Regions from separate parts of the Homo sapiens genome. Here region 2 is linked to region 1. The links come from fine-mapping of genetic effects on gene expression. A gene starts in region 1. The other region holds a variant in brackets. All regions are shown on one strand. Distances are between the middles of the regions. Region 1 holds the start of FDX1 (ferredoxin 1). Region 2 overlaps LINC02732 (long intergenic non-protein coding RNA 2732).

Region 1 (8,340 bases):
TAACCCCAAGACACAGGACAAGGCCTGTAAACAAAAGAATGCCTATGTTTATTGTATAATAACCATGACAATTATTGTCCCAGAGCTACTGGCAACTGCTGTCTTACAAAGAACAGGACACTTGCCTTGTCTGATTTAACATCCTTTTAGTAGCTAAATGAATTTTACAACCTTGCTATTATTGACCCTATATCCCTACACCTTCTTGCCATTTTCACCCACTGACTCCAGTGAAACAAACCTGTTTCTACAATAGGCTCAGGAGTATGCAGACAGATTACAAAAGGACACCTGCTGGATATACAGACTCATGCCTCTTTCCAGTGGCTCTGGCCTGCCATGGTAGGTATCCTCCTTCCAAGGTTAGGACCAAAAATTTATTATATCACAGAAATGGTCTGGTATTCTTAGTGCTGGCATAAGAGAACAAGGAAGATGGGAAAAGTTTTTCAATGGAAAGGACCAGCTCATTAGCTCTCACTTTAGCATCCCCCACAACTAAAAAAAAAAAGGTGGTAATTATGCCCCAAACAACAGCCCATTTCAAAATGGAATAATGCAAATTTGGGATGAATTTCTCTGGCTCACCCCTTCATTTGGCCAACTCAGCCAAAATGCTGGGAGCAAAGAAACCACACCAAGGATTTATGGCCAGAAAGTATGAGAAATATGGGGTGGATACTGGGAGAATGCTGTGACCACATTATCATATTACAAGACATTGACTGGCATGCCACCGATTGGTTGTAGCAACTAGGTATTTATTGGCTAGCTCCAAATGGGACATATTGGCTGTGTGGTACTAACTTACGGCTGTGGTCACCTCCAGGGTGATTAGGAAAATGTTCCCCAGGTTACGCTTGAGAACAGGGGTGAATAATTCAGACCCTGCCAAAACCAGCAAGCCTTTTTCATTTACGATCTCACTGGACACGTTCAGTATTCCAGGGGCATGATCACTTGAAGATTGAAGCTAAGTATTGAAGACATTATATGGCCTATAGAGGCCTTAATGAATTACACCAAAAAGGCCCTAAATGATAGCCAGATGAGTATCCCGTTGCTAAATAATGAGGTCATGCTTTTGAGGAAAGCTGTGTTGCAAAACCATATGGCCTCAGATATACTCACAGCAGCACAGCGGGGGGCCTGCACCATCATAAAAGCTGAATGCTGTGTGTATATTCCACATGAATCGAAGAACATAACCTGACTTATGACTGATATGAAACCCCGGAAAACCAACCTGTCAGATCCAAAACCCTCACTAATCAATTGGTTGAGTGATTGGTTTGCATCCTGGGGAAGTTGGTGGCAGAAGCTGTTGCTTATAATAGGAATAATAATAATAATAATAATTTCTGTTCTGTCCTGTTTCTGCTTACAGTGTTGTTAAGGTATGTGCTTGCAAATAAGTCCACACACAACTGAAAGGGCTAGGGTAATGATTGCCCAGGGAATTGCTCTAATTGAGGAGGCAGTAATATAACCTGACCCACCTTCCAGGTTTGCTTCCTATTTGTTGCTATACATCTGGCCTAGGTCCATATATATATACATATATATGTGTGTGTGTGTGTATTTTTTTTTCTTTTCCTTCTTTTTTCCCATTTTTTTTTATCTTCATGGGACATAATGTCTTAGGAATGAGCCTTCATAGCAACGTGGGACCTGAACTTCTAGGAGTTAACCAACCTAGTGAGGAGAAACCAGCTCAAAAGAAAAGGAAGAAAAAACAACCCTAGGCCAGAAAGCTGTATTCCTTCTAAAATGCTTTCTCCAAAAGATTTTAAAGAAAAAGAAGGGAAAATGTGAAAGGAAATTAAATCTTGAGACCCCAAACTCATTAAGCCAAAGGGAAAAGTTAAGCTAGGAACTGGGTCATGCAAATCTGCGTCCCCCTTTTGGTTTGTAAATAAGATGGCTACAAGATGAAAAGCTACATGTCTCCTCCATATTTTGCCCACAAAGAAATTCCTAGTGAGCTGCAAGATCTTTTAAGGTATTTCTGTTAAAATTTCACCATGGCAATGTAAATGGATAGATTATCTTTACAGATGCAGTCACCCTGCTGCCCACCAAACACAAATGAATATCTCATTGTTCCCCTGCCCCATTTTGCCTATGCTATCTTACGTAAAAATGTAGATTTCCTGCATTTTTCCTCTGCTCCATTTGTCTCTGTCATCTTATATATAAAAAAAAGCAGATGCACTGAGCTAGACAAGGGTATGAATGACTATTTTTCCTTATCCCGCCATACATGAAAATTATGTACTTCTCAATATCCCACCTTTTCCCCTTTAAATTTGGAGCCTTCAAAATCATCTTCAGAGAAAGGCATAGAACTGTCTCCTGGGCGTGCATCCTTAACTTTGGCAAATCAATCTCCTAAAATGATTGAGAATTGTCTCATCATTTTTCTCGATTGACACCTTTATAAAAGGGTTGGAGGAAATTGGCATGTTTGCCCTTCTTGCAGCATGTGAGGACACAGCAACAGGACACCATCTTGGAAGCAGAGACTGGGCCTCTCTATCAGACATTAAACCAGTTGGCACCTGGGCGACCCAGTATCCAGAACTGTGAGAAAATAAATTCCTGTTCTTTACACATTACCCAGTCTGTGTGTTATTCTGTTATAGCATCATAAACAGAATAAGACAAAAGTCTTCAAACAATGAATGGATTTTGAAAGGAGTAAAAGATGGGCTGGGCATGGTGGCTCATGCCTGTAGTCCCGGCACTTTGGAAGGCTGAGGTGGGCAGATTGCTTGAGCTCAGGAGTTCCAGACTAGCCTGGGCAACATGGCAAAACCCCATCTCTAAGGAAAAAAAGAAAAAAAAAGGGATGGAGGGGTGGGAGTTTTATAGACAAAGAAATACATAAGCAAACAGATAAGCAAAAGCACGTCCTCAGTAATTCCATGTTGCTTTATCTGTATTCATGATCATGTTTACAAATCCATTCTGGAATTCTGCTGACTACTGATATTTGCAATTTTTGGCATTACTTCTCATCCACCTTAGAAAACCTGGAGAACATTTTTTCTATCTTTAATCTTCATATACATGCTTAATGAATTCTGATGATTATTAATGGAAATTTCATAACATCAATTTATTCACCAATATTTATTAGACCCTTGATATGTTCAAGACCCTGTAGCTGGTGCTGTCGGAGTCACTAAGATGAACTATATAAATAACTACTCTATGTGTACGAATAACTACCCTACAAAGCAGAAAGCTATCAAGTGCCTTAAGGGAGTTGAAACTGTATTTGCTACAGGAGGGCTGAGAGAAGACAGAACATCTACGATTTTTTTTCTTTTCAATTCTCTTCCTACAACTAATTCATCCGACCTTGGAAGTTTGGTCTTACTAAAAACAAAAGTTAGCTGTTCTTTTACAACCTCCTCTTCAAGATTACTTGTCAGGGTTTGCTGTGCCCTTCGCAGCTTGAAAGACTTTCTCTTCATCCAACGATTTGAGGCAATTAGGAGCCACTGCCTTCTCTCTGCCATTGGGTTCCAGAAAGCACCATACATTGTCCGCAGATACTTTACTCATGCTTACACTTTCTTGTTCTGAATCTTCAAAAATTAGTGGCGTGTGGTGGCACACGCCTGTAGTCCTAGCTACTCGGGAGGCTGAGGCAGGAGAATCACTTGAACCTGGGAGGCGGAGGTTGCAGTGAGCCGAGATTTCGCCACTGCACTACAGCCTGGGCAGAATAGAGAGACCCCATGTCAAAAAAAGAAAAAAAAAGTATCTGATTGTGTTTAGCATATCTGCAATATCCCCTTGACTTTGGCCTTTAGCCTCTTTATGAGTACCCTGATGGAGGAAGGCCCAGGAAGCGGTAGCCTTCCTGGTTTGTGACGCACGGTGTGCATTGCGTATTAGATTAACATCAGAATGGCCCTGAAGGCTGGAACATCTTATCTGTGTTTGAGAGTTATGGAAACTCTGATCCTCCATGAGAATAATTTTTCCAAGGTCTCAGATCTCTAAAGCAGTAGATCTTGGATCTGAACATTGCTATTTCTGACCTTAAAGCCCATGCATTTCCCACAACATATGAACCATGATAAGGTGTATTTTAAAGTTCATCTTTTCTGTTTTTTGTGAAAGTCTTTTAGAGATCTCAGCTCATCACAAAGTTTCCGGTTCAGTCTCGTGGGTTTCATGTACTCAGCCAGCATTTACTTGCCAGTCAAGGTCTAGGATGGCTACCTGTCCTCTGCAGGAGCCCCAAGCCTATTCATTAATTTCATTTACAATTTTATAGTCATAATTATTTCTTTGTATAATAGCATTCTGAGATTTTCCAAAATTTCCCACTGTTTTTGTTTTACAGTGGGCAGAATTCACTTTGCTCTAACTTGACTCCAAGATGACACAATTTCCCAGTTTTTTTTTTAACGGCTAGGGGATGGGGGTATGCGGAACAGAACACAGTGGTCTAGCTAACCGATTTCCGCTAGACGTCCAGCTATCTTTCAAAATATTTTGTTTCTGCACGGCAACTTCAGCCGCTAAAAAAGCATCCAGCTTACAACGGAACCTGGAGGGTTGGTAAAGGCCCCCTGCGCTGGCCCCGCCCCATGGGACCGGGCGGCGTGGGCGTGAGAGGCGGGGCGGGGCCGCGCTCTGCTTGCCAATGTCTTTATAGGTCACCCGGAAGGCACGCGGAACCTCGGCGCGGTGCTTCCAGCAGGGTCTCTCCGCCACTCCAGCCCCGCGCCCCTCGCCGCGGCCCTCGGGCGTCTGCGCCGCAGCTGCCGCCCCCGCCTCTTTGGAGTCTCTCGCGGCCTCAAAGCGCGGCCTGCGTCGCTTCCGGCAGTTCCCGACCGCGGGCGATGGCTGCCGCTGGGGGCGCCCGGCTGCTGCGCGCCGCTTCTGCTGTCCTCGGCGGCCCGGCCGGCCGGTGGCTGCACCACGCTGGGTCCCGCGCTGGATCCAGCGGCCTGCTGAGGAACCGGGGGCCGGGCGGGAGCGCGGAGGCGAGCCGGTCGCTGAGCGTGTCGGCGCGGGCCCGGAGCAGGTAGGGCGCCGTGCGGGCGCGATCGCCGGCGCGGGCCGGGGTCCCCGGTGGGTGGCGCCTGGCTCTCTGGGCCGAGTCTCTGGTTCCAGTGCCTTCTGCGCGCCGGGCCCACACCCCGGAGGCCTGCCTCTCGCCCCCCTCTTCTGGGGTGCTCTCGCGGCTCCGTCTCGCTGCTCGGTGGCGTCGCTGCCTCCCTTCCGTCGCACCGCAGAGTTCCTTTCCGCATCACCCACTCCCGGCGGGAATCGGGGACCCTGGACGCCCAGCTCCCTTTCCCAGCGCTTCCCGTGCCCTGAGGAAAGCCGGGACTTTGCTGCTGCTTGTTCTCCGTGTGATTTGTCTGGGATCTGACCTTTGCTCTGCCCGAAACTGGCAGTGACCTTCGCGACAGGCTTCCCTCCTGCTGTCCTGGCCTGACACACCTGCCAGCTGTTTTTTTCAGGGCCTTGCCCTGCTTTGAGAGGACACCCAGGTCCCAGGTCTTTGTCAGGGGGTGTCCAGGTAGAATACACCCAGCCCATACCCTCTGCTGCCCTGTAGGCCCTTTGCTAGTTGCTCAAGTGTTGAAAGCCCCTGCGTTGAAGTAATCTGCCGGGACTTGAAACTTGGCTTTGGCACTGATTGTCTGACGTGCCTAACTTGGTCAGTCCTTAGGAACCCAGTTTCTCCATTTGCAAGTTGGATATAATAACAGTGTAGACCTCCTATGGTTAATTGAAGAATCAATGAGTTAATACAGCGATACAGGTAGTCTTGTGCCTAGCACGTAATGAGGGCTCAGTAGATGCCACTTGGTAGCAGCAGCAGCAGCAGCAGCAGCAGCAGCAGCAGCTTCTTAGGTTCACAATGTTAAGAGAGTTTTGTATTAAATATTGAAAGAAATGTGACAATTTATCCCAAATGTGTTGAAGTTTTAGGTTCTTGGGCATATTTGTTTTTCAAAGACACTCCTTAGATATACTAGAGATACAATTTACACATAATTTTTACCAACATGGTGGCGATTTATATAATGCAGATCTCTCGACAGCTCTTTGACCGCATGATGTAGGGTAGCAGGAATCGAGAACTAGAGGGAGAGTGTGTTGGATTTGTACGCTGCTTTGTCTAGTTTCTTTTTGAGGTCTCTGAGAGCAGGGTCTAAGACTTTCAGTCATCTTTTCCCCACTAATCCCGTTATCTAGTGGGTGCTCCATACATTTTTGTTGTGTGAACTTTGGGGGAAATCAGGGAGAAGGCAAGCCAGATTTATTTGTTCCTGTTTCCTCTGCACTTCCCCCCCTGTCTTTGACCAGTGTGGGTACCTTGCTTTCTGTTATACAATGGATGAGTTTTGGACAACTGAATCAATTGGGACAGATATTGAACATGCTTGTGTAACTGGTATAAGGGAACATGAATGTTTTTGTAGTAATTGGGAGTTATCTTTCTCAGATTTGTTTTTTGGATTTGGATATGTCAGGTTGTTTTAAAGGGGAGCACGTCTATTTCCTCATAATCCTGCTGCCCTCTTTATTGGCACAATTTCTATTCATGGTCTTATCATTCCTCTTACAGACTTTGGAGCTACAACTGGATTTTCCAGTTCTTACTGTGTTAATGAGACTTGTGCTGTAACTACCGTAACTACTAATCACATGTGGCTATTGAAGTTTAACATAATTAAAGGTAAATAAAATTAAAGATTCAATCTCGTAGTTACACTAGCCACATTTCGAGTTCTCAGTAGCCACATGTGGCTAGTGGCTACTGTATTGGACATTGCAAGTATGTGTAGAACATCTTTGTTATGGCACAAAGTTCTTATAGACAGACAGAGCAGTTCTAGAAACTGTAGTTCTGTCTTTGAAGTTTAACAACTCGATAAGCTATCAGTAATTGAGAGTCAGAAAAACTCCTTTTACTCTAAAATACCGTGACACAAGGGGGTTTGCAGTGATTCAGGTAGCAAAGATCTTTCACGTGTATTGTTTCGTATGACTCTTAAGACAATTCTATGAGGTAGGGAGGGTAGATAAATGGGAATAAAAATTTCATATTAAGTAGCTGGCAAAACTAGGACTAGAACTCAAGAAGTTTTTGCGGATTTTAAAAAAATTTTAAATTTCTATTTATTTTTAAAATTTCAGTAGTTTTGGGGGCACAGGTGGTGTTTGGTTAATGGGTTAGTTCTTTAGTGGTGATTTTGGAGGTGTTGGTGTACTCTTCACCTGAGTGCAGTGGTGCCATCATGGCTCACTGCAGCCTACACCTCCCAGGTTCAAGCGATTCTCGTGCCTCAGCCACCCGAATATCTGGGATTACAGGCGCGTGCCACCACACTCGGCTAAGTTTTGTAGTTTTAGTAGAGATGAGATTTCACTATGTTGACCAGCCTGGTCTGGAACCCCTGGCCTCAAGTAATCTGCCTGCTTCAGCCTCCCAAAGTATTGGGATTACAGGCGTGAGTGACCACTCCCAGCATAGGGTCTACATCTTCTGACTCTTAGGTTCCATACTCTTTCAACTTAAGAATTACATTTTTCTTTCGTTTCCGCCTCCTCTCCTCTTCTTTGGTAAACCTGTTAATACTCTTACTTGGCAGTTTTTTGTAGGGCTGTTTACCTTTAATACAGACCAACAGGTTGGGCTTCTTAGCAAAAGGGCTTGGTCTTTAAATAACAGTTATTAATCAGTGTGTGTTGAATTCTACTATGTGTTACGTATTTTGCATACATTGTCAGAACTATAAGATTAATGTTGTCCAATTTTATAGAAGAGGAGGCTGATGTAAGAGATTTCGAATTCCTTTGCTGTAAGCTTAGCTCTAGAGTGCTTCAGAAGAACAGCAACGCTGAAACCTCTGGCTTTCAGTAGTGTGTATAAATGATGGAATTCTTTCTAATGTGCTTCCTGTAGCTTTAGCTACCAGGCATTCGTTGATGTCAAATCTCTAGACTTCTCTGCTGGGCTCAGACCCATACCCATATTGCCATCTGGTGTTTGGACATTCTCATCTGGCTTTTTCATTATTAAATTCAGCAGGTCTAAGCTTCAACTTATTTCTGTCTTCCCCAAAGTTCCTTTGGTTCCTGTCTTAAACCTAGGTTAAATGGTACCACCTAATTGTGTGAGCTGGAAATCCCAATGTTTTTCTTTCCGCTTTTCAGTTTATCTTATGTAGATGGTCACTAAAACCTTTTGGTCTACCTCCTGGATGTCTGTTAAGTCACTGCATTCTCTGTCCCTGATTAGTTTATGCTGTTTTGATAACCTCCAAAGTGGCCTCCCTGCCTCTAGGGTATTTTCAT
Region 2 (8,340 bases), 58 kb before region 1:
CTTCCAGTCTGTTTTATATCCCTTGAATTGTAACTTGTTTTCTCTCATTTTCAATAACAATAGTCAGGAACATTTCTGGGCCATGCATTTTATAAATGTAGGTTCTAATATTTAAACATTTTTTTTCCTATGAAAAGGAAAAATAAGACAACCAAATATTATTGTTGAACTGATTCTAAAGGCTAGTCAGGTGGCTATTATAAAAAATAAATATGTAATTACTGCCACCTAAAGGAAAATTGTTAAACATACTGAAAAGATATTTTAAGATTATGTTTGATATATGAAGCTATTAAGGGGGCTAATTTTGTGTTTTTAAAAATTTTTCGTCTTTTAACAGGTTGCTTTTATCCTTCGTTTGAAAAATTATTCATTTGAATCAATAATTACTATATTATTCATGAATAATATTAATAGTGAATATTCATGTATTTATTATATAAGTAATATATTCACTAGCATAAAATTTTTAAGTGACAAAATTATATACAGTGAAGAGTAGGTCCCTGTATTACTTCATTTGTGTTGCTATACAAGAATACCTAAGGCTGGGTAATTTATAAAGAACAGAGGTTTATTTGGTTCATGGTTCTCAGGCTGTACATGAAGCATAGTGCTGGCATCTGCTTCTCGTGAGGCCTCAGGAAGCTTCCACTCATGAAAGAAGGCAAAGAGGGAGCTGGTATGTTACATGGCAAGAGAGAGAGCAGGAGAGAGAGATAGAGAGAGGAGGTGCCAATCTCCTTTAAACAACCAGCTCTCATGTGAATGAACAGAGCGTGAACGGAGCAAGAACTTCCTCATTACCATGAGGATGGCAAGGGGGATCTGCCCCCATGACCCAAACACCTCCCACCAGGTCCCACCTCCAACAGTGGGGAGTTCTCTCTCTCTCTCTCTGTCTCTGTCTCTCTCTCTCTCTCTTTCTTTCTTTCAACAGAGTCTCACTCTGTTGCCCAGGCTGAGTGCAGTGGCGTGATCTGGGCTCACTGCAACCTCAGCTTCCTGGGTTCAAGTGATTCTCCTGCCTCAGTCTCCCTAGTAGCTGGGATTACAGGCACCCGTAGTTCGCCTAGCTGATTTTTGTATTTTTAGTAGAAACAGAGTTTTACCATGTTGGTCAGGCTGGTCTCAAACTCCTGACCTTGTGATCCGCCCGCCTCGGCCTCCCAAAGTGCTGGGATTACAAACGTGAGCCACCGTGCCCGGCCCTGGGGAGCATATTCAACATGAGGTTTGGAGAGGGCAAACATCCAAACTACATCAATTCCCTATCTATCTCTGCCCTCTTAACCATAATTCCCCTCCACAAAGTCGATTGCTACAGGCAGTTTCTTGTGTATTTTTTCAGATAGTCTGTATATACATAAGACTCAATGTTTGTGAATGTGTATGTGTATATTGATACATGCATTAAAATACTCACAGGTGGTAGTATATGGACCCATTAGTCTCCACTTTGTTTCTGTTTGTGTATTTTGTCTTGTTTTATTTTCAGTATCCAGAGATCACGTCAGCATATATTGGGGATGGCTTTAAAACAAATGCGGGCTGGGCGCGGTGGCTTATGTCTGTAATCCCAGCACTTTGGGAGGCCAAGGCAGGTGGATCACTTGAGGTCAGGAGTTTGAGACCACCCTGACCTACATGGTGAAACCCCTTCTCTACTAAAAATACAAAAACTAGCTGGGCATGGTGGCTTGCGCCTGTAGTCCCAGCTACTTGGGAGGCTAAGGCAGGAGAATGGCTTGAACCCAGGAGGCAGAGGTTGCAGTGAGCCGAGATTGTGCCATTGCACTCCAGCCTGGGCAACAGAGCAATGCCTTGTCTCAAAAAAAAAAAAAAAAAATTAAAATAGGCTGGGTACGGTGGCTCACACCTGTAATTCCAGCACTTTCGGAGGCTGAGGCGGGTGGATGAATTGAGGTCAGGAGTTCGAGACCAGCCTGACCAACATGGTGAAACCCTGTCTCTACTAAAAATACAAATATTACCCAGGTGTGGTGGCACGTGCCTATAATCCCAGCTACTCGGGAGGCTGAGGCAGGAGATTTGCTTGAATTCTGGAGGCGGAGGTTGCAGTGAGCTGAGATCACATCTCTGCACTGGGCGACAGAGTGAGACTCCATCTCAAAAACACCCCACAAAAACTGTATTTCATTCAAACATAATCTGTTTTAGAGTCTCCAATTCATAGATATTTAAGTCATCTCTGTTTTTGCTATTTCTTATTCAATGATGGAAATCTTTGTACATAAATTGTTGTACATAAATCTTTGTACATAAATCTTTGCATATGTGTCAAAAATATGTATAGAGTATGATCCTAGGAAGGAAATTGTTGAAGCCTTTGATTTCTTATCCAACTCTAACCCTTCCTATTTCCCTCTCTTCATTTTTCCAATACAGTTATATAAATTGCTTACTTGTCCAGGCGCAGTGGCTCATGCCTGTAATCCCAGCACTTTGGGAGGCCGAGGTGGGCGGATCACGAGGTCAGGAGATCAAGACCATCCTGGCTAACGTGGTGAAACCCTGTCTCTACTAAAAATACAAAAATTAGCTGGGCATGGTGGCATGCACCTGTAGTCCCAGCCACCCAGGGGACTGAGGCAGGAGAATTGCTTGAACCCAGGAGGCGGAGGTTGCAGTGAGCCGAGATTGTGCCACTGCACTCCAGCCTGGGCAACAGAGTGAGACTCCATCTCAAAAAAAAAAAAAAAAACAACTTAGTTAAGCCAAAAGTCAGTGTTTACATTTTTGTCACTATTAAATATTATTCACCACTGAACCAAATAGGATCTTGTCATCATATCTTCTTTCTTGTATAACCTTCTGCTTTTTCTGACATTAGTAATTGCTAATCCCCTTCATCACTGGCCAAATTGCTTAGTTTTCTACATACAATTACTATTTTTTTCTGTTCAAAGGATACTGGAGATTTGGCAAACTTTTGGTAATCCTTTTCCTCCAAATTCCCAAACACATTAAATAATTATTAAAGGTTGGGCATGGTGGCTTATGCCTGTAATCCCAGCACATTGGGAGGCCAAGGCAAGAGGACTGCATGAAGCCAGGAGTTCTAGAGCAGCGTGGGCAACATAAGGAGACCCCTCTACAAAAAATAAAAGCAAAAATAAGTTGGGTGTGGTGGTATGTGCCTCTAGTCCTAGTTACCTGGGAGGCTGAGGTGGGGGGATCACTTGAGCCCATGAGTTCCAGCCCATAGCAGTGGGCTATGATTGTGCCACTGCACCTCAGCATGGGTTGACAGAGACCTTGTCTCTAAAAATATATTATTATTATAATAATAATTAACAGTTATGTTTTTCTCCCTAGATAGCTCCCTTTTGTTCTTTCACAGCCTTCTGCCTTTGGGATGGCTGCTTGCTAGGTGTAATAGATGTTTTATTAGCAAGATATTTTCTCTCAGAATTTTGAGGGCATTGCCCTGTTGTCTTCTGGCATTTTGTATTGCTATTGAAAAGGCTGATGCCAGTCAGATTGCTGATCCATAAGGCAATATGTGACCTGGTTTTTCATTCTGGAAGTTTTTAGTATCTTTTCTTTATTTCCAGTATTCTAAAATTTTAAAATTAATTGCCTTAGAGAGTGTGGCAGAGACGGGTATTAGACCATCAAAAAAATGTCCTTCTTCCTTGGTGCAGAGTGGTTTAGAGGAAGCCTGTGCCTGGCACTGCTCAGCATTTCCCAGCCCCATTGCATTCAGGAAGAA[C/A]CTTGTGACTGGTTCTTTCTAACAGAAGGAGTGTGAGCTGAACTGATGTGTGTCAGCTGAGGTGGTGGTGGTGGGGTCAAGGGCAGGGACTGGAGTGGAGGGCATGACAAGAAGGGATGCAGCTAGTTCAGGAAGACCAGTGTCAGAGGAGTCAGGGCCCAGGGATCCAAGGTCCATGTTAATGTTTCCACTCTATCCCCAGTGCCAGCCCTGCACCCCACTCCTGCCCCTGCTTGGTGCTCAATGACCCTGTGTCTGGCTTCTCTGGGGAGAACTGACTCTGTCTTATTCACTTCCCTTTCTCCAGGCTCTCAGGTAATTTTCTCTACTCTGATAAGTAAGTTGCTTCTCATTCTTTCCTTTTCCATCTTCCAAACACTTATTGAAATCCTTTTCTGTTATTCTCTTTATCTTTATGAATTTTATCGTTTTACTTCCCTTAACCGTCATTGTGATGGCTTGGGGAGTGTATTAGGTTCCAAGGGCTGCTGTGACACATTACCACAAAATTAGGGGCTTAACACAACAGAAATTTATTCTTTCACAGTTCTGGGGTCCAGAAATCTAAACTCAGTTTCATTAGGCCTAAATCAAGGTGTTGGCAGGGCCTCTTTCGGCTTCTGGTGGCTGCTGGCATTCCTTGGCTTGTGACTCCATCACTCCAGTTTCTGCATGATCACAATTTCCTCCTCCTCTTCTGTTGGTACCAAATCTCCTTCAGCCTCTCTCCTATAAGGACACTTGTGATTGTATTTAGGGCCCACCCAGATAATTCAGGATAACCATCCAAAGATCCTTGACTTAATTACATCTGCCACGTACTTGCCACATAAAGTAACATTCACAGATTCTGGAGATTAGGATGTAGACACATCTTTGGGAGCCATTATTTAGCCTACGACAGGGAGAGAAGATGAAAGCATATGGTCAGTCTACAATATTTAATGGGGGTTCTTTCCGTGTTTTCCTCTAGTGCCTTGCAATTTCCTTTTAGCATTTCAATCTTTGATCTAATTGGAATCTATTTCAGAATGGAGCTTCCTTGTTATCCCAAATGCCAATTTTTAATTTTATTATTTTATTTTATTTTTTTGAGATGGAATCTTGCTCTGTCACCCAGGCTGGGGTACGGTGGCACAATCTCAGCTCACTGCAACATCCACTTCCCGGGTTCAAGTGATTCTCCTGCCTTAGCCTCCTGAGTAGCGGAGATTACAGATGCCCACATCCAAGGTGGCTAATTTTTTTTTCTTTTTTGTATTTTCAGTAGAGATGGGGTTTTGCCATGTTGGCCAGGCTGGTCTTGAATTCCTGACCTCAAGTGATCCGCCCATCTCGGCCTCCCAAAGTGCTGGGAGTACAGACATGAGCCACCATGCCCGGTTGCCAATTTTAAAATATTTTGTCTTTTCTCCCTGGATATGAAATAAAAGTGATTAGGTCTTAAGATAAAAAAATTAAAACACATTTATTTTCCTGTAACATGCAAAAATGCAAAAAAAAAAAAAAAGAAAGTAAAATAAAATAGATATAATTTTGGAGAAATTGCCTTTGCTCACTGTGGATTCTGGAGGGTGTGAGTGATGGACAGGTCCATCTGTGCATGGAGAATGGAAAGCCCCTTCTCCAGGATCACCCTTTACCTTAGGAGAACACCTCAGCTCCAGGCACCAAGCAGGAGTATCATAGGCACTTAGCTTTACTCCTATAGACAAATAAGAGTGGGGAGACTATGTGGTAAGGAATGATACCCTTACACTCTTTCCAGCCCTTCCCAGTCTTACAAGGAGTGACACACTTGGTGGCCTTCAAGCCTGTCACTGCAATTCATGCAGTGGGTGGTAAGAGGACAAAGCACGCTAGGTCCCTGATCCGACCTCCCAGGGATGACAGGTCTGGCTACTCCTCAAACTGAACCTGAAAGAATGCAAATGGTTCAAGTTTTCACCCTGATTCTGGCACACCCCGAGGCAAAAATAGCCATTTGCCTTCATACGAGCTTCTGTGTAGGCTGTGAATAAGGAGGTTTCTATCTCAGCTTTCTTTTTGCTCATTTAAAGACAACTGAGAGTACGACAGGGTAATTGTTTTGTTTTAAAGCACTGTAATTTAGTTCCTTTCTGGACCTTCTATGTATGAGTCATTTTCTGTAGCAGTACTAAGAGATGCAAATAGAAAAACATTATTTCTGAAAGCTTGAGATTTCAAGCTGGGCCTTTTATTCACATTCTCTTGCTAGTTTTAGTTTTACTTGTGACATTCATGTTATTAGAAGAATGACACAATTTCAATCACATTTTTGTCCCATGTACTAATGTAGCAAACAATTTCACAACCTTCCCTTTCTTTTACATGTGAGTCATTATCATTTGGTTTTGTTCTCCTTTACTCCTGAACTCACTATCTCCTGATCACATGTATACACATTTCTCTGATATCCTAGATCTTTATGGGTGATCAAGATTTTTGTATATTCTGTTTTGTTGCTTTCATACCCGCTAGTATCCTTTTTAAGTTTGACTCTTTTATACTTTGGGAGATGCCAAACAAATACTTCAGGAGAAAGGAGGCAGTGTGTTGAAAGGAAGTTGACAAAGCAAGAAGAAAAGAAGAAGAAGATATAAGGAGGAAACGTAGTGGCTCTTAAACAAAGATCTTGCATCTTTTCCTTCTTTAATTTTTTTTTTTTTTTTTTTTTTTTTTGGTTTGAGACAGAGTGTCACTCTGTCATCCAGGCTGGAGTACGGTGGTGCAACCTTGGCTCACTGCAACCTCCACCTGCTGGGTTCAAGCGATTCTCCTGCTTCAGCCTCCTGAGTAGCTGGGACTACAGGCGCAGGTTACCACGCCTGGCTAATTTTTGTATTTTTAGTGGAGGTGGGTTTCACCATGTGGGCCAGGCTGGTCTCGAACTCCTGACCTCAAATGATCCACCCACCTCGGCCTCCCAAAGTGCTGGGATTACAAAACAGAATTGCTTGAACCCAGGAGGGAGAGGTTGCAGTGAGCTGAGATGGCGCCACTGCACTCTAGCCTGGGCAACAGAGCGAGACTCCATCTCAAAAACAAACAAACAAACAAACCAAACCCAACTTTGAACCCAGAATCAGAAAGCAGATTTAATTTGGAACTCTATAGAATGTCTGCACATGAACAGATGCCATAGCCGTAACAAAAATTAGGGCCACAGCCACTTTTCTTGCATCTCCTCCTTCCTCCTTTTTTCTTTGGCTTTCTTGTATAAACCTTAGCATAAGGCATGGTTGCTTGGTTTACAAAATATTTGTTTATGAAAGTTGCAAAGGTGAGAAGAGGGATTTCAGAATCAGAAAGACTGGGTTTCAAATTTTGGCTTTGCTCTGTGACCTTTGGCAAATTATATAACTTCATTAAGCTTCAGCTTTTCCCTAGTAAATATTTGACTGATGAGAGGTAAATGAGAAAATGTGTATAAAAATCTTAGTATAGTGCTTAGCATTTCAAGCAACCCAGAATATCAACTAATTTGTTAAATGAATATTTCTTGAATATTTACTGTATGCTGAACTGTCTGCCAGGTTGAGGCTGCTGTGGTGAATTGGACAGGAAAGATTCCTGGCCTTGTGGAGCTTGCATTCTGGTGGGAAAAACAGACAATAAACATGTAAACAAATCAATAAAATAACCAGATGGTGAGAAGCCCTGAAAGAAATAAAAAAAAAAGTGTGTTATTAAGAACAGCAGGGAGGATCTGTGTCCTATGCTGGGGAAGTCAGGGAAGATTTCACAGCAGCCTGAAGAATGAGAAAGAGCCAGCTGTACTATGAGCTGTTTAAGACAGAGGAAATTGGGTCACTGGCTTAGAGAGAGATTGGGTTCTACTCACTGTCAGAGGCCAGCAGTGCAAGGTTCCTCCTTATCTTCTTATGGCCTGTGTCCTTCTATAGCCCTGGCCACTGAGAATTGGCTCAGACTGTGACTGTGACTTGCTGTCCTCAACTTCCTTATCCAACTGAAATTGGATGGTCCATCATAGTCACCCTCTTGAATAGATCCCAAACTCCCTTGTCCTTTTAATTGTACTTTAAACTCACTTGGCCAAACTCCAACCCTGGTTAAATCCAGCTCTCTGCCCTACTCCATGTCTTTGCCCATTGAGTATGGTGGAAGAATAGCCCACAATCTCATTGGCTGGTTCTATGGTCTGAATGTTGGTATGCTTTCCAAAATCATAGGCTGAAACTTAATCCTCAATGTCATAGCATGGAGGTGGAGACTTTGGGGGAAGTGATTAAGTCATGAAGACTGCCTTCATAAATGGGATAATGTAAAGGAGATTAAAAGGAGGCTGTTTGCTCCCTTCTACCATGTGAGAATGCAGCAAGAGGTACCATCTCTGTGCAATGAGCCCTTACCAGACATTGAACCTGCTGGCACTTTATCTTGGACTTCCCAGCCTCCAGAACTGTGAGCAATACATTTCTGTTGTTTATAAATTACCCAGTGTAAGATACTTTGTTATAGCAGCACAAATGGACTAAGACTAAGGACCTCAGTTCCACTTTAAATTCGCCGAGGTCGTTATGCTACCAAGCAATCTTATGAGATTCCCCTGTTCCCTCTCT

Evidence for each region.
Region 2: its variant is fine-mapped to the expression of FDX1 in monocytes after LPS (Quach 2016, PIP 0.91).

The regions. Positions count from the first base shown.
Region 1 is chr11:110,425,256-110,433,595 of GRCh38, forward strand. It overlaps FDX1 (ferredoxin 1), which reads left to right and starts at 4,693. Exons shown (of 4, transcript NM_004109.5): 1 at 4,693-5,050. The coding sequence starts at 4,866. RefSeq lists a silencer at 4,507-5,156 and an enhancer at 5,227-5,506.
Region 2 is chr11:110,367,539-110,375,878 of GRCh38, forward strand. The region is part of intron 2 of LINC02732 (long intergenic non-protein coding RNA 2732); the gene reads left to right. LOC107984385 (a long non-coding RNA gene) reads right to left here. Exons shown (of 2, transcript XR_007062885.1): 2 at 4,246-4,631. Among named protein-coding and RNA genes, the nearest start is that of LINC02732, 17 kb to the left of the region's middle. The variant C/A (reference allele first, on the strand shown) is at 3,737.